2 separate regions of the Homo sapiens genome follow, and region 1 is linked to region 2. The links come from fine-mapping of genetic effects on gene expression. A gene starts in region 2. The other region holds a variant in brackets. All regions are shown on one strand. Distances are between the middles of the regions. Region 1 overlaps COL5A1 (collagen type V alpha 1 chain). Region 2 holds the start of RXRA (retinoid X receptor alpha).

Region 1 (8,318 bases), 520 kb after region 2:
ATCCCATGAAATCACCCGACAGCTCAGCAAATGCTGCCCGTCCCTCTGGGGAGAGACTGGTGCCATCGCTGAGAAGGGCTGTGACCGACGCCACTGCTGAGATGAACTGCTTGCCCAGCCTCCCAGGGGTGGATGAGAAAGGCCGGGCAGCGCCCTGCTGGCTTGCTGACCTGTCGCCGAGCTCACTTGGCTCCCCAGGACAGCGCCACCTTGCAGTGGCCCAGTGAAGCCAGGCCCAACCATCTCACTGCACTCCCTGGGTGGGACTGGGCCAGGGAGCAGAGGCCGGAGGAGAGGCAGGCAGGGTGGTCTCTGGCTCCTCGCCGGTGGGGAGGGTGAGGAGGTTGGTACCCTCAGGGTTCACCCCTGGAGGGTGTGGATGGCCACCTCTCATTGAATATCCTGTGTCCAGCCCCGCTGCCCACCTATCCTTCCCAGCCACCGCAGAGCTGCAACTGGCCCCTGCCCTCCGTTCCACAGGAGAGCTGTGGCCACCCCCAGGCGGGCTTGTGGGACAGCAGCATCCCAGCTGTGTTCTGCAGGGCTGAGCTGGCCACAGGGTGCCGTCTGCCCCACACTCGGCATTCTGTGGAACTGTGTGTTTTGCTGTCAAGTCCGGGGGTGCCCCATGGCGAGGTCCTTTAGGACAGCGTTTCTCAAAGGCCAGTCATGACCACGCCTATCAGAATTGTCTGAGACACCCATTTTTTAAAATGCAGATTCCGAGTCCCACCCCAGCCAGACGGAGTCAGCCTCTCTGGGCAGGGGTCAGAGCTGTAGGGGGTTAACAAGCTCCCTGAGAACTCGCGTTCTCTCTGAAGTTCCAATCCCAACTTGAAAATCATGCCAGGCTGAGCCAGCTGCAGTAACAGAAAGGTGTTCCTATCAAGGCAGGGTTGTGAGAAGGGCAGGGTCAGGGGAGAAGTGGACATTAGGAGGTGAAGTTTGGGACTCTCATGGATAATAGCAGGAACGCATGCAGGGAGGTGAGCTTCATTCCTTCTCACAGCGCCTCTGTGATGTGAGCATGCCCATTTTCCAGCTGAGGAAACTGAGTCACAGAAAGCGTATCGGTTATCCATTGCTTGTAATCAACTAGCCCCCCAAATTTAGCAGCTTAAAACCACAGATGTTCGTTACGTCACCCCATGTCCGAGGGTCAGAAGCCTGGGAGAGGTGCAGCTGGCTGGCTCTAGCTCAGGGTCTGTCTTAGGTCCATTCGCTGCCACGACAAATCTCGCCAGCTGCGTGGCTCATAAGCAACAGAAATTTGTCGCCCACAGTTCTGGAGGCTGGAAGTCTGTGAGCAGGTTGCTGGCAAGGCAGGCTCTGGTGAGCTCCCCTCTGGGCTGCAGATAGCAGCTTCTCACTACACCCTCACAGGGTGGAGTCTCTCGGGTGCCTCTTTTATAGGGGCACTAATACCACTCATGGGGTTCCACCCTCAGGACCTCCTCAACTCCCATCGAACGGCCCCACCTCCTAATACCATCTTTGGGAACGGGAACATTAAGATCATAGTCAGGGAGAATAAGGCCCTTCAAGGCCACGCCCTCCCCATAGGTCAGGGAGCAGAATACCGGGAGAGCTGGAGCTGCTGTCTGCTATCCGAATCTCCGGCCTGGGAGTCTGCGCTGGGCCCTCTGCAGGGCTGCATCCTGGGGTCACTGCCTCCCATCCGGGAGGGAACCCTGGCTGGCCCCTACTTGTTTATCTGATCATTTCTTTTGGGGATGGGGCAGTGGAAGGAGATCCTTCCCAGGCCCAGATCCAGCTGCGACTGTAAATCCAGTCTGGGTCTGAGGTAGCAAAAGCCATCTGCCCAGGATGCGTTTGCAGGCTCCTGGTTTGCGGGAAAGGTGCGGCCTCCAGGGCCCTTGTCTTGGGGGAAGTTGACGGGACAGCAGGGCCAGCTCAGCCTCAGTTATAAAGAACACTGGGAGTTATATTTGGGTGGCTTTGGGGAGGGACCAAAGAATCTCACACCTGCGCTGCCTGTGTTCTGGGAGGGAGGCGGCCTCTCCTAGGCTTCCATCCCACATCCCAGCGCCCAGGGTTGTGCTGTTTTGAGCAAGGGATGGGTGCTGACTCATCCTGCAGGCCAGGTTCATTGCACTACCCCTGCCCTCTGTGCCTCAGTTTACCTAAGACTCCTCTAGACCAGATGGTGTGGAAGGTCCCCACCCCTTCCCATACTTGTGGAGGTGAAGACCCAGCCCACCGAGTGCCTAAGGCAGTGTGTGGCAGGTGGTCGTAGGGGGGTCTTACTTGGCTCAAGGCTCTGCCGGTGCCGCCTCGGACTCCTTCCTTTTCGAACCTGGAGCCCCCGTTTGATTTTCCAGTGTGCCCTGCTTGTTCTGTAGCTGGCCCTGGGTCCTGGGGAGGCTGCCTGGAAGTGAATACCTGGGGCATCACAAGGAGTCTGGACTGGGCACGGTGGGAAGGCTGATCAGCTTCAATCCTGTGTGTGCCTCAGCCACCCCTGAAGCCTTGGGAGGGTCCTGTCGCCTCGCTGATGCCCACACCACCCCACCTCCGACCTGTGCAGGGGGACTCTTGGGACATCCACCGGGGTTAAATGCATGCTCTGATCAGCCATATTTCCTCCAACACTTGCCCGGGCAAGCGCAGCCCTGGGTAGGAGACAGGACACCAGCCTGGGTTTTGGAGCCAGACAGATTGTGGGGGGTGATTGGTAAACCCCAAGACCCCCAACTGTTCTTAACCACCGGCCATCTGTCTCCCTCTTCCCCAGACCAAGAAAGGCTACCAGAAGACGGTTCTGGAGATCGACACCCCCAAAGTGGAGCAGGTGCCCATCGTGGACATCATGTTCAATGACTTCGGTGAAGCGTCACAGAAATTTGGATTTGAAGTGGGGCCGGCTTGCTTCATGGGCTAGGAGCCGCCGAGCCCGGGCTCCCGAGAGCAACCTCGTGACCTCAGCATGCCATTCGTTCGTGAGTGTCCCGTGCACGTCCTGACCCTGGACAGTGAAGGCTTCTCCCTCCCCTCCCACCTGACTTCATCTACGCCTCGGCACCACGGGGTGTGGGACCCCAGCCCGGAGAGAACAGAGGGAAGGAGCCGCGCCCCCACCTGGAGCTGAATCACATGACCTAGCTGCACCCCAGCGCCTGGGCCCGCCCCACGCTCTGTCCACACCCACGCGCCCCGGGAGCGGGGCCATGCCTCCAGCCCCCCAGCTCGCCCGACCCATCCTGTTCGTGAATAGGTCTCAGGGGTTGGGGGAGGGACTGCCAGATTTGGACACTATATTTTTTTCTAAATTCAACTTGAAGATGTGTATTTCCCCTGACCTTCAAAAAATGTTCCAAGGTAAGCCTCGTAAAGGTCATCCCACCATCACCAAAGCCTCCGTTTTTAACAACCTCCAACACGATCCATTTAGAGGCCAAATGTCATTCTGCAGGTGCCTTCCCGATGGATTAAAGGTGCTTATGTTTTTGTGAGTTTTAAGTAAATATTTGTATTGTATTGTTATAAATGTTAAGTGTGCCTGGCTTTCAATCATGCACGGAAACCCAGTCTCAGTCCCACGGACAGAATGGGCGAGGCATGGATTCTGGGTTGCAGTACCGTTCTGATTAGAAATAGGAAGTCTCCCCACCCCCGCCCTGGCCAAGAACGTGCAATAAATTGGAAGTTTGCCCCGGGGCAGCAAGAATTTATGCTGCCATTGAAAAGCAGGTACCAGTGCCCCTTTTCAGACAGTTTTTGATTCGCTCTAGACTTTTTTTTTTTTTAATAGGGAAAAAATTTGATAATTTTCTT[T/C]TTTCTACATGCACTTAAGACTAAAACACAGGTTTGGATTAATTTTATTTGCTTCCTTTTTCCGCTTTTCTTCCCGCAGAGCCTGATGGGAGAATGTCCAGGGCAGGGAAACCACATTTTTTGTAGGTGATAACTCAATGAAAATTGGTGCTTATTTTTTACACTTCTCTCTTGTGGCTCTCTTGTGGTGCTATCTATCTGTTTTAAGGTCTCCTTGAAGGCGCACTGGGGACCCTGGCCATGCCTCGTTCTCCCTGCTTTCTTTATCCTGTTATTGCCTCCACAGTCTGTTGCCAAGGACTCTAAGATCAATGCACGTCACTTTCCTTTCCACTGGGCAGGATAGCCAAGCACACTCCCTCCTGCGCTCTCCCGCCCCGGTGCGTCCACTCCCGAGGGCTGTTATGAGGACTGGGTTGTGCCTACTTGATTTGAAAACACACACAAGCAATAAAAAGCCTCTTCCTGCATTGTCTGTGGTGTGACCATAGCAGATTATATTTGGTTCCTGAATGTTTGTGGTGCTAATTTCTGTGTTTGTTCCAAGCCGTTCAGTCATGCCATGCGCTGCCTCGGTAGATGGAGTAATGTACAATGAACTCCATGAGTCTCTCCAGGGCTGCCTGCAGCACGTCTTTTCCAAGTAGCCTATTTGGATTCCCATCTCAAATGTCCTGGATGCGAGCGTCAGCGGCTCCAGAGCTCGGGGCGGGTGAGGTCCCCTTTGGGGAACCCTTTCCTGGCCATCGAGGTCGGGGGGCTGCCGTCTGTGGGCAGGAGGACCCGAGGGGCAGCCAGGAAAGGCGATCTCTTCACTGTGAAAAGTTGCCCGGGTGCAGCGCCTTTTCCTTCTACCATGGGAAATGCAGGCTGGGCCCTTGGGGTGAGCCTGCGGGGCTCTGGTGCTGTCCCCGACCCCCACCACCACCAGAATGCAGTTCCAGCTTAGGAAGCCACAAACAAGCCACCCAGGAGGAACAAAACACCGCCAGCGTGGATTTTCCAAATTTCCCTGGAAAGTAAGTCTCGCTCTTGCCAAAGAAAAGTCTGGCTTGGAGAGTCTCTGGAGCCCAGGATGCCAGCATGTGCCAATGACTGTCACCTTCATCTCTTCAAAAGAAAAGCCATAGCCGAGGACTGTCCCGCGACCCCCGTGGACTGCGTCTAGGTCATGTGATTCTGTTTTCATTTCTCATCCCATCCAATTTGTCCTTTTCTCCTGTCATTTTCTTCCTCTGTGGTCCCTTCAAAGTTGTTATAATTTGTACTGAACTTCAAAATGTGTCCCGTTCTCCCCAGACCACTCTAGCCACAGTATATTGCAATAAAATTACTTCTTATATTTGCAGAAATTCTTTTGGTGTAATTTTATTTTTTCCTCTCAATATATATAATTGGACAAACGCTGGCAAAAAGAAAAAAATGGTAAGCAAAAAACCCAAGATAAAGTTTCGAGGACATCAGGCCTTTTGAAATACAATGTCAAATGACACATTGTACGGTTTCAAAAAATCCGCTAGACATGTCATAAGTTTTAACTGTAATGCCCAGGAAAGGATATCTTAAAATATTCTAAACTTGTGTAACAAAGGAATAATTAACTGTAATAGTTTTTCAATAAATCGAGTTGGGTGTTTCCACCGTAAACAGATGTGAGTGACTCTCTTCTTAAGTGTGGCCAGGCCCCTCCCAGACAGGACTGCACACAGTCCCAGGACGCTAGGAGCTCTGGAGATAACCACACTGGCCACCCAGAGAAAGGAAGGGATGGCCCCGGCTGTCCTTAGGTGGAGCTTGTCCCTCAGGAGTGGCCAAGGCTGGCATGGACAGCTTTGTGCCCTTGGGAGGATGTTAGAACGTAACCGGGCACTAGCCCGAGAAGTGAGTTTCAGCCACTGCTGGGTGTCCACACCACCGTGTACTGTCCTCACTCTTCACTCCTGGCAGTCAGCACCCTGCGAGAATGTTCTTGAAGCTCTCCAGCACTGCCCTTCCAGCTGTGTAGCAGGATTAGACTCCCTAGCTCCTTGTGGCTAGAGGTCGGGGAAGGCACGGGGCTCGTTGCAGCCGATGACCTTGAGCCCACGTGGCATTCGCCTCTTCCGGTCTGAAGGTGTGGTTCCCTCGGGCACAGCACCAGCCATGTTTCGTGGAGGGGCTACGTCACCAGCAGGTTCCCTGAGTGAGCCCCCTGCCAGCTTGTGAGAACTGGTAGCAGGAGCAGGAGAAGCACATTTTTGTTTTATTAAAGCCACTGATGTCAGGGACTGTTGATTACTCTGCCGAATAACCTAGGCCAGTGGGTCTCCAGCAGGGTCCGGGGAATGGCAGCAATGGCACCACCTTGTTAGAAGTGCCAGTCCCTGAGCCCCATCCCAGACCTGCTGGCCCAAATGTTGTGGGAGAGCTGAATCATCTGAAAGCAGGTCTCTGAGCAACTCTGCTGCACGTTCAAGCCGGAGAGCCAGTAACCTAGGTGATCCGGAATTGTGTAGGTGCTTAAGGACGAGGCGACTTTCACAACAGAAGGGTGGTCTGCAGCATTGCCCAGGGAAGCTGGGGCCATTGTGAGAGGATGGGAGGCTGTTGACCCATGTCATCCACAGGCAGAACATTGGGTACAATTGTTTGATCACTGTGATAGCTCAGAGGTAGATTATGAACTCATAACTTGCAACCCTTGGGGAGGAGGCTTGACATGAAATGATGGTGGGCAGGCTGGATGCCTGAATTCCATGTGGCAAGGTACCACGTGGCAGACCAGCTCTGGAAAGAGCCAGGAATGAAAGGAAACGGCCCACGAATCAAGGATGCGCAGAGTTGGAAGAGGCAACCGTTTCCCAACATCAACTGTTTAAAGACCACATTGAGAGACGCCTTGAGGGACAAACGCCAGTTAAAACTCAGTCGTCATGAATTTGAGCAGCCCACCCCTTTCTTAAAATCCTGGAGTAGATTAGGATGGCGCCTAATAAATGCATTTGAGTTGGGAAAGCGACTCCGGCAATGGACGCTCACAGTCGTCAAAGGTTGATGGGTCTGAAGGTCCTTGCCATCGAATCCAGAAGAGGAGAGAGAGCAAGGCAGGTGGGCGGACAGTCGGCGTGGTGCCTGCTGGTGGAGCGGCCAGAAATGCACAGGTGGGCAGCTGATCTGTCCTCCGGAGAGGCATCCTGCAGAGGGGCCCCAGCCTGGTCTGGAGGAGTCAGTGGCTCAGACTCACAATGACCCTTTGACCATCCCAGGCAGCAGGAGGCTTGAGGTCCACTCGGCCGGTGGCTGAGCCATGGCACAGTTGTGGCCCAGAGTTGTGGGACTCCCCTCGCACCCGTCATGCAAGGGGACTCCCACGATTTCTCGGGGTTGTAGGTGACAGCTCTGGGAAGTTTCCTGGGGAGAAGGAACCCTGGAGGGAGGGTGCATGCCCCCAGTCTGCCTTCCTTGCCTTCCTCCTCCCACTGGCCCCAAGGAGTTCTGCCACCACATCCATTCATTCATCTGTTCATCCATCCATTCATCTATCCATCCATTCACCCTTTCATCCATTCATCTATCTATCCATTCATCTATTCATCATTTATCCATCCATTCATCCATCCATCCATCCATTCATCCATTCACCCTTTCATTCATCCATTCATTCATCCATTCATCCATCTATTAATCTATTCATCATTTATCCATCCATCCATCCACACATTCGTTCACCCTTTCATTCATCTGTTCATCCATTCATTCATTCATCCATCCATTCATCCATCTATTCATCATTTATCTGTCCATCCATCTATCCATCCATTCATCTATCCATCCATCCATCTATTCATCATTTATCCATCCATCCATCCATCCATCCATCCATCCATCCATCCACTCTTTCATTCATCCATTCATTCCCCCATTCCTTCAGTGGCAGTTCATTGACCACCTGCTGTGTGCCAGGCGGGAGCAGCAGGGGAGAACCCACCCTCAAGGAGATGCCACTCCAGGGGACACGGGCTGACCAAGACCCACAAGGCAGGGGTAAGGTGTGCCCAGAGGAATGAGACCTGAGGAAATGTAAAGGGGAGGAGACAATGTGCATGTGTGTGGTTGTGTGTGTGTGGGGGGGGTGATGTGCATGTGTGTATGGCACGTGTGTGCATGTGCTATGTGGTGTATTTTGCATGTGCTATTTGTGTTTATGTGAAGTGTATGTGTGTTGTGTGTGTACCTGTGTGTGTGGTGTGCCTGTGTGGTGTGTGTGTGTGCCTGTGGGGAGCTGTGCCTGTGTATGTGGTGTGTGTGCCTGTGTGTGTGGTGTGTGTGGTGTGTGTGTGTGTGGTGTATGCCTGTGTGTGGAGGTGGTGTTTGTGCATGTGCCTGTGTGGTGTGTGTGCTGGCGTGTGTATGGTATATGTGTGCGTGCCTGTGGGGAATGTGCCTGTGTGTGTGGTGTGTGCTGCATGTGTATAGTGTGCATGCCTGTGTGTGTGGTTTGTGCTGTGTCTGTATAGTGTGTGTGTGGGTGTGGTGTGTGTGCC
Region 2 (8,318 bases):
TATTCTTGTTTCTGTGATTAGCTGGTTCTTTTCTCTATTTTATAGAAGAGACTGATGTCCAGAGAGTACCCTTGTCCAAGGGCCATGTAAGAGTTGGTGGCAGAGCCAGGCTATGGCCTCTTCCTCCTGGTACCTTCCCCAGCACCTTGTTTTCCAAGTCTGTTACCTATGTCCCTTCTCTCTGGACTTTGGTCTCACCTGGCACCGGCTGCTTTGGCTGGCCGACCTGTGCCATGAGAAGCGGGGAGGTGGTGTGGCTCATTGGAGGCTGGGGGCGGAGGTCGGTGGTTGTCTGGGGTCTTTCCTGGGGGTTCTGACCACTGACCTCAGCCCTGGGTCTGGGGACTGTGGTGCCAGAGTCACCACACGGTTTGGAGTCAGTCACTGCTGCTCTTCGCCTCAGTGTTTCCATCTGGGAAACGGGGAAACCAGAGTCTTGGTCAGCCGGGGTGGGGTTAGAGGGGATGGTACCTGGCAGTGTGCAGCAGACTGGCACCTCGGAGGCAGCTTGGAAAGCTCAGGTTCCTCCTCTCCGGACTCTCAGAACTGTTCCTGCCCTTCTTTGAGCATCTGTGACCCCTTGCGGCTGGCGCTGGGATTCGGTGGGGCTCTTTGGTGGCCCCTGGAGGGAACCCACTGTCTCTTGCCTGGAGCTGCACTGAAATCCTGGCTCTTCATTACAAACCAGCTCCTGTCCCCTTAAGCCTCACTCACCTGAACTCTTTGGCTCACGCCACCATTCAGCTCCCCAGAGTTCTGGAAGTAAGACCCCAGCTGATGACGGAGGCAGCGGCTGGCCTTCGGAGGACCTCACCTTTCTCTTCCCCTGCACTGCTTTGGGTTTGGGGTGTGCAGGGCCAGCCAGCTGACTGCTACCAGGGCAGACGCTGTCAGTGGTGACTGCCCTGCAGGCCTGCAAACATTTTGCCAGAGGGCCAGACCCAGGAGCAGAGGGGTCCTCTTCTCTTCCTCCTCCTCCCCTCCTGTCCTCTCCTCTCCCCTCCCTCCTATCCTTTCTCTTCCTCTCCACTCAGCAGAACAGACTGGAGCCCAGGTGTGGACAAGTGGCTTGAGTGTTTCCCTCTAGACTGATGGAGAGACAAGCTATGACTGAGAAAGGGGGTTCGGGCTGGGACCCCTGGGCCTAGTCCCAGTTCCATGTGGACCTGCCGGGTGGCCCCTTGCCTCTCTGAGCTTTCGGCTCTACTTCCCAGCTCGAGTCATCATCGGTCACCACAGACAAAAGGTGTTGTCCCCAAAGGAGCCACAACGGATGTGAGAGAGAGTCCCCTTAGGCTGAGGTGCTTGGGGACAGATCGGGCCACCTTGCCCAGCAGTACCCAAGCCCTTGGCCTCCCTTGTTGGAGGCTGAGCTCCCCAAACCCCTGTGAGGTCCTGCTAGTGACCAGCTCAGGACCACAGGGAACCTCTGGAAGCAGCTTAGAGCCCCGTTGGTGTCCTGGGAACTTCTGGGAGCAGTCCACCCAGACGCCAGCTTCCTCATGCTCAGCCAGCACAGAGACCAGCCTTTAAAAATATTATTCAACAAGCAATTCCCGGGACTGTTTACAAGACTGAGCCGAGACAGGCATATGAAATAGGCCAAAGTACCTTAAAAAGCGTCCCTCAGGGAAATTAAAAAAAAAAAGACCCAAACAAAAAAACAAAAAAACAAAACCTTCTTAGATCGCAGGTTGTGAATAAATGGATACTACTATAAAAATAGTTTTGGCTGTAGCAGCACATGGTGGGAAGGCTGGGGTGTTTTTTTCCATGGCTGGCTCAGACCTGGCCATTTCATATGGGGCAGCCACTATCCCGGGAGGTTTCGTGTAGAATCATTTGCACCAAAAAGCTCCAAACTGAGGGGGAGGATAAAAAGTAGTGGCCACAGAAATAACAAGCGGCATCGTCATTTTCCATCAAGGACCTGGTGTGTTTTCGGCGGCCGAGCACCCAGGCCCCTGCCCCATGGAAGAGAAGGGCGGGGCTGAGAGCCATTCACCGTCTGTGGGCACAGAGGCTGGATGTGAGCCCAGATCTGCAGGACTCCGGACTCCGTGCGCTCTCCACGTGGTCTCTAGAGCAGGGGATGACGCCTTCCGGTGTTTCTTAGGAACAGAGGGCCCTTCTGGAACCTTCAGCCTTCCCAGGAGGAACCCACATGGAAATCTGTCTGCATGTGCCTCCCCGACTCCAGGCACCAACAGCTCCTGAGTCTTGAGTTTTCAGGGACAAGGAGTGAGATGGGGGTGGGGTGGAGAGTCCAGCATGCCACACCGCCCACTATTGGGAGGTGACCTCAGACACTTCAGCCCAGCCTTCCCACCATTGCCTGGCGTGTCCTGACCTGCCGTCCGCGGCCTGCTGCTCCTTCTCTCTGCAGGCCGCTGCTCAGCCGGCCCTGCTGCCTGGGCGGCCACTGCCTGATGGAACCTCCCTGCTCCAAAACCTGACTCAAGAACCAGTGATCCCAAAAGCTGCCTGAGCCCTTTGGCTGGATAGAGCCTTGCTCTCCCTGCACTGAGCATAGGCGAACGGCCTGCCTAATTCAGCGTCATTTCATCATCATCATCATCACAATAACTGTCACACCGAGCTCGTCCTCCCGAGCGCAGACTCTCCATATTATCTCACTTAGTCATCTCAGTGACTCAGTGAGGAGGGAGTGGTTGTTCCCACTTTACAGATGAGAAAACTGAGATACAAGGAGGGAAGTGACCCAGCTAGGCCACACGGTTGGTAGGAGGTGGACCTGCAATCTGGCCCAGGCCTTGTCTATCTGGGACTCCCCCCCAACCCCCCAACCTGAGTACAGTCAGGAGGGGCCCAAGCAGTCACAGAGACAGGCCTGGAACGCGGCGGGCACATGGCACTTTTGCAGTGTATGTTGGTGCTTACGGGGGCTCTTTCTCAGTCCTATCCTTTGTTTGCCGCCCCCCTCCCTGGCAGGAGGAACTCAGTTTTAGAAGGGCAGTGGGTTGGGCCGGCATGCCATGTGCAGTGGGGAAGTGGGTCTGTTGTGGCTGTAACCACAGTGGGTGAGGACCAGGTGTCAACAGTGGCCCTCATCCCGGAGGGAGTGGGGCAGGCTGCCTGTTGGACAGGGTGTGTGAATAGGGGGACGGGGTGGCCTTTGGTAGGGGCCCAGGGGTCAGTGAAGAGGGGGAGGGGGAGAGGGCTGCCTTGGGCTCTGGCTGTGCTGGGGGTGGGCTGCCCAACCAGGGCACTTCTGTCCCAAGTGGAACCAAGACCTCCCACCGGAACAGGCCACCGGAGCCCTCGTGGAACCCAGCTCCGGGTGGCCCGACTTGAGGGGCACCCAGGCAGCAGGACACCTCTCTGGTCTCGGGCTGTTATCTTTGGGCCGTGTCATGGCTGTCCACACGCGGTCATCACCTCCTCACCTCCCTCCCCATTAGCGTCCCCTGACCCGGGCCACCACGCGCAGCCTGCGTGAATGGTCAGTCCCTGTGCCTCGCAGCCCGGGCCCTTAGGTCTAGGTGGTCAGCAAGCTCGCGGTGGGGGTGCGGAGGGAGGGCGCGGCGGGGCGCCTCGGCGCCTGCTCAGGAAGGCTGGGCTTGGCGGCGCGCAGGTAGCTCACACCCAAATCCGAATTCCAGCCGCCCGAGACGGCGGGCGGCGGGCGGCGCGCGGCGGAGGCGGCCCGAGCTGTCCCGGGGCAGGAGTGCTTCCTTTCGTTTTCAAACAAATCGTGAATTTAAAAGTCAGGCAGAGAACTACCCAGGGTATAAAAATAGCCACCGGCCACAAAGTCTGTGTCCAACTCCGGGCAGCGCCTGCCCAGCCTGGTGCCTTTGAAGAGGGGTCCCAGGAGTGCGGGTCGATGAGGAGGCGAAGCGCGCACCCCTCCTCGTTCCCGGTGGGCTCGTGGGTCTCTCCGTGGGGGTAGGGCGTGAAAGTGTGGGGTGGACCGGGGGTAGCGTCCGGAAGACGAAACCTTCCCCGGACGAGGAGCTTGTCCTCTGCCGTTGGGGCACATCGCCACTCCCGGGCCTCAGTTTCCCCACGTGTCCGCCGCGGCGGGGTGCGAGGTATGGGTGCCGCGGCCATCCCGCCCGGCTCTGCGCTTGCCTGGCCCGGGCCGGGGTCCCCTCGCGGCCACCGCCCGGCCGCTTTGTGTGGCCGCGCAGACAATGGCCCGGCCGCTGGGCTCCCGGCCCGGCTCTCCGCCTCCTCCGGGCCCTTGCGCGCAAGTGTGTGTGTGCGCGAGTGTGTGGCGGGCCCGGGGAGGGAGTTCTGCTCCCGCCCCCGCCCCCGCCCCGCTCCCTCTGCGCCCCGCCCCCTCCCACGCCGCCTCCTCGCGGCTCCCGGGAACCCCTGGCGGAGGCGAACTCGCAAGTTTGCACGGCGCTCTCAACTCGGCGGCCGGGCGGGCGGCGATCGCGGGGCGGCGGCGGCGGAGGGGGGCGCGCTCCGGGCGGGGCTGGGCGGGCGGGGCGCGGGCCGAGCGGTGGCGGCGGCGCTGCGCCGAGTCAGCGCCCGTCGCGGGCCCCCCGCCACCCCCCCGCCGGCGCCGCAGCGCCGCGGTCGGAGCGGGGCGCGGGCGCGCGGCGGCGGGGGCGCGGGCCGGGCGCGCGCGGCGGCGGCGCGCAGACACAAGTAGTTTACATTGTTGGGCGACTTTTGCAACAACTCGCCGCGCCGCGGCCTCCGCGCGCCGCCGCCGCCACCGCAGCCGCCGGCTCCCCGCCGCCCGGGCCCGGGCCGGCCGCGCCGGGGGCCGCCGCGCCCGCCGCCCGCTGCCTGCGCCGCCGGCCGGGCATGAGTTAGTCGCAGACATGGACACCAAACATTTCCTGCCGCTCGGTGAGTGCTCGCCGGGCCGGGCGGGGACGGGGCCGGGGGCCGGGGGCCGGCGGGCGGGAGGGGGCCGGGGGCGCGTTGGCGGCGCGCGCGGGGGGTCGCCGGCCCGGGCCCCGCTCGGACCCCTCGCCGACCTTCGCGTGAGTTCGGGCGCCGGGCCCGGGGAGGGTCGACCCGGGGCAACTTTTCGCGGGGCCGGGGCGGGGCTGGGCAGCGGGCGGGCGGCGGGGCCGGGGGGCGGGTGGCAGGTTCGCCCGGGACGAGGAGGGGTCTCCCGCTCACCGGCGGCCGCCTGCGCCCCGGCGCCCAGCTGCAGCCGCGCCGCACAGGAACCCGGCCGGAGCGGGAGGAGCAACTTCTGCGCTCCGCGGCTCCGGCCTCCCTGGCCTGGGGACCGGGACGGCGCGCTGGGCCCCGAGCGGCCTCTGCGCCGCCCGCCCGTCGGGCTGCGGCTTCTAGCAGGCCGCTGGCCCTTGGGTGTGTGTCCGCCCAGGAAACAGACTGGGACCCTGTTATCCCCAAAGCAGCCCACGCCCGGGTGGGCAGGGTCCCCCGGGGCTGTATGAACAGAACGTCAGACCTGGGAAGGCCCCATTCCAGAAATGGGGCCCCTCACTCTGGCACCCCCGGGTGTTCTCCCAGGCTGGCTCTCCATTTGTGAGCAGGACAGCGCAGAGGCGCGTAGGGTCAGTTTCCCTCCTCCTCCTGCCATCCCGCCCGGTAGCTTCCTATCCCAGACTGCCCGCCAACTCCAGGCCCAGACCTACCGAGAAGGGGGAGAGGGCATGGCTGGGGCCCCCACCCATTGCCCTCCCAAGGGTTTGGAAGCTAGTGAGAAGGGGGAGACTTTATAAATTAGCTCCGGGAAGGATATTAATTTGGTGGTGGGACGGCAGCCAGGCTGTCAGGCCGGGTGAAGGATTTGTGCTGAATGGAAATCGAAACAGCTGATTATGAATGAAGCCCCCGCCATCCGTAGCCCCTCCTGCCCACCCTCCCTGCAGCCTGGGGTGCAGCTTGGCCACCCCAGGAGGTGCTCAGAAGCCAATGTAGCTGCAGGGATGTTTAGTGAGATGGGGCATCAAGGGGAGCCAGCATGGACCTAGCCCCTCCTGGATGTGAGGGTGAGAGTCTGAGTACCTCTGCTACTCACAGGCAGGTGTGCTGCCCCGTGACCGGGGCAGGCGGTGGGTTCCAGGTTTGTCAGACCTAACGCTTACTCCCTGCCTCTGTCATGATGGAGTGGTGGGCTCGAGGCCTTGAATGAGCTCCAGGGCTCAGCCTCCAGGGGTGGGCGCTCATGCCCATTTTGCAGATGAGAAAACTGGCTGGGAGAGGCTGAGCCCCCAGGATACAAGGTGGTGGATTTGGGATTAGCACCCCCAGCTCGTGGTACTGCTGAGTGTGAGGCAGGAGGGAATGCTGCGCTGTCTGTGACCGAGTGCAGTGTGGAGTGGGCTGGGGCTGCCTTTCCCTGTTAAAGCTTTGCACTCACACATGTGCACACACACATCCACACACACAGAGCTAGGCTCTCCCAGACGATTCCTCTGGAACAAGAATGCTCAGCTCAGTGTCTGGCCCCTGGACGTGGCAGGGGCCTGGCTGGTTGCACTTCAGCTGAGTACTGAGAACCGAACAGGTCCCTGTTTCTAATGCTCCGGGTGGGACAGGGATAGTCCACGGAGTTGGTGGATGTAGGGCGAGGGAGCAAGGGGTGCCCAGTCGCCATGGTGGCTTGCTGGAGTCCCTGTGAGGAGGAGAGGTCGTGCCTCCGAGCCACTGCCCCAGGGATCTCCCTGGGCACTCCCCTGCCACAAGGAAGCTAGGAGTCTTCTGTTCTCGAGCAGCAGCTCTCCCGACCGGCCCATGGCCTCCCAGGCAGCCCACGCCCCAGGGCTGAGCAGAGAGCCCTGGGCTCTGATTACATTTTATTTTTTTTCTAAGCTTGTGACCAGCTCTGAAGTCCAGAGCAGTCGAAGGTCCATTTAAGCGGCTACTTTTCTAAGCCCTTTTGTCAACACAGCCTAATCCCTCCTCGGGGTGAGTGGTGGTGGAGGGCCTGGCTTGTCTTGGCCCGGCTGGCCGACCGGTCAGACCTGGAGCTGCTGGGGAGACTCGGCCACCCCTTACAGCTGCCCAGCCGCTTTTGGGGTCTGGGGTAGAGAGGGCTTCCTCCTCCCAGCATTCACTACCGCTGGGCTTGGTGGGCAGGGAGAGGATCCCAGTCGGTGTCCACCGAGCCGCTCAGTGAGGGCAGGGATGAGTGCAGCGTCCAGATCTGGAAGGAAAGCAAGGCCGAGGGACTCGCCAGAGGCAGCCCCAGCTTCCTGGCCCTGCTGCCCGGGGCTGGCCGCGCTCCCACGCCTGCCGGGGAGAAGGCCCCCGCTGGCCTTATCCTGAATGGTGGGACTCAGGCGGAGTCCACAGAGTCCAAAGGTCTCAGACCACACCAGACCCCATGCGCCTGTGGAGAGACCCGGTGGCAAAGCTGTAGGCCCGCTGACCACTCTTGGAGTTGGGGCACTTGGGGGCCTGGGTGAGCTTGCAGCCTGTGTGAGGGGCTTCTGGTAACATCAGAGCCCTTGGGACCCAAAATAGAGCACATTCCGGGGCCTCCCGAAATAACAGGGTCATGTGACTCTCAGGAGGCTGGGCTTGGAGTCCCGCTCGGGCCTGACGAGGGCGTCTTTTAGCGCGGGCGCTGCCCGACGGCAGGGTGTTTGTTTTGGTAAACTCTGGAGGGGCCCTGTTTGTTGACTGGGGAGGTGTCAGGGAGAGAAAAATGGCCCAGTCCGATGGTGGCCCTGGCTTGCTAGCCTCCAACCTTGCCTAGGGCTGGCTGCTGGGCCTGGACCCGAGCATGCAGCTGTGACCCTCTGCCCAGATGTGGATGGGACGAGCTGGGCCCCTAGGAAGGGCTGGTGGGGGGCGGGTGCTCTGAGTCCCTTGGGGTGTGGGGTGCAGGTTGAGCCGGCAGCCCTGGTCACGCGGGCAGCTGCTGTGACTGGCTCCCGGCTCTGCCAGCACCTGGTGGTTCTTCCAGCTGTGCCTGTCCTTCAGGGCCTGTGGGGGGCTCACCTCCACCAGGAGGCCCCTCTGACTGCCCTCTCTTGGCCCCTGCCCCATCTCCCCCGTGGCTGTGTGGGAGGTCGCTGTCAGTGGTCTTTGTTTCCTCCCCTGGGAAAGGGTGCCTGCAGGATTTGCTGTGGAATTACTGTGGGAACAGGGGGTACTCAGGGGTGTGCCCCTCTGCCCCTGGGGCCTGGTCGTGCATGTGGCAGGGGGCTCTGGCATCAGGAGAGGGTGGGACAGACCTCAGCTGCATGGAAGGTGGTGTGGGGGCGGGGTGAAAGCTTTACAGGTCCACCCAGTGCCAGTGGAGGCTGCCTGGGGAGTTTCCTTTCTTGGGTGACGTTTGGTTTTGCCATGGGTCAAATGTTTCAGGGCTGGGACCTCGAGTGGTGAGCAATGCCTGTCCTCTGGAGAAG

What was found. PIP is the estimated chance that this variant, and not a neighbour inherited with it, causes the effect.
Region 1: its variant is fine-mapped to the expression of RXRA in cerebellum (GTEx, PIP 0.99).

What each region holds. Positions count from the first base shown.
Region 1 is chr9:134,839,402-134,847,719 of GRCh38, forward strand. COL5A1 (collagen type V alpha 1 chain) reads left to right here. Exons shown (of 66, transcript NM_000093.5): 66 at 2,756-5,442. The coding sequence ends at 2,902. All of the region lies in intron 1 of LOC101448202 (a long non-coding RNA gene), which reads right to left. Among named protein-coding and RNA genes, the nearest start is that of MIR3689C, 5.8 kb to the right of the region's middle. RefSeq lists enhancers at 2,738-3,572, 5,884-6,384. The variant T/C (reference allele first, on the strand shown) is at 3,796.
Region 2 is chr9:134,321,830-134,330,147 of GRCh38, forward strand. It overlaps RXRA (retinoid X receptor alpha), which reads left to right and starts at 4,626. Exons shown (of 10, transcript NM_002957.6): 1 at 4,626-4,830. The coding sequence starts at 4,803. RefSeq lists silencers at 4,124-4,303, 4,374-4,423, 5,162-5,301 and enhancers at 5,912-6,841, 6,842-7,771.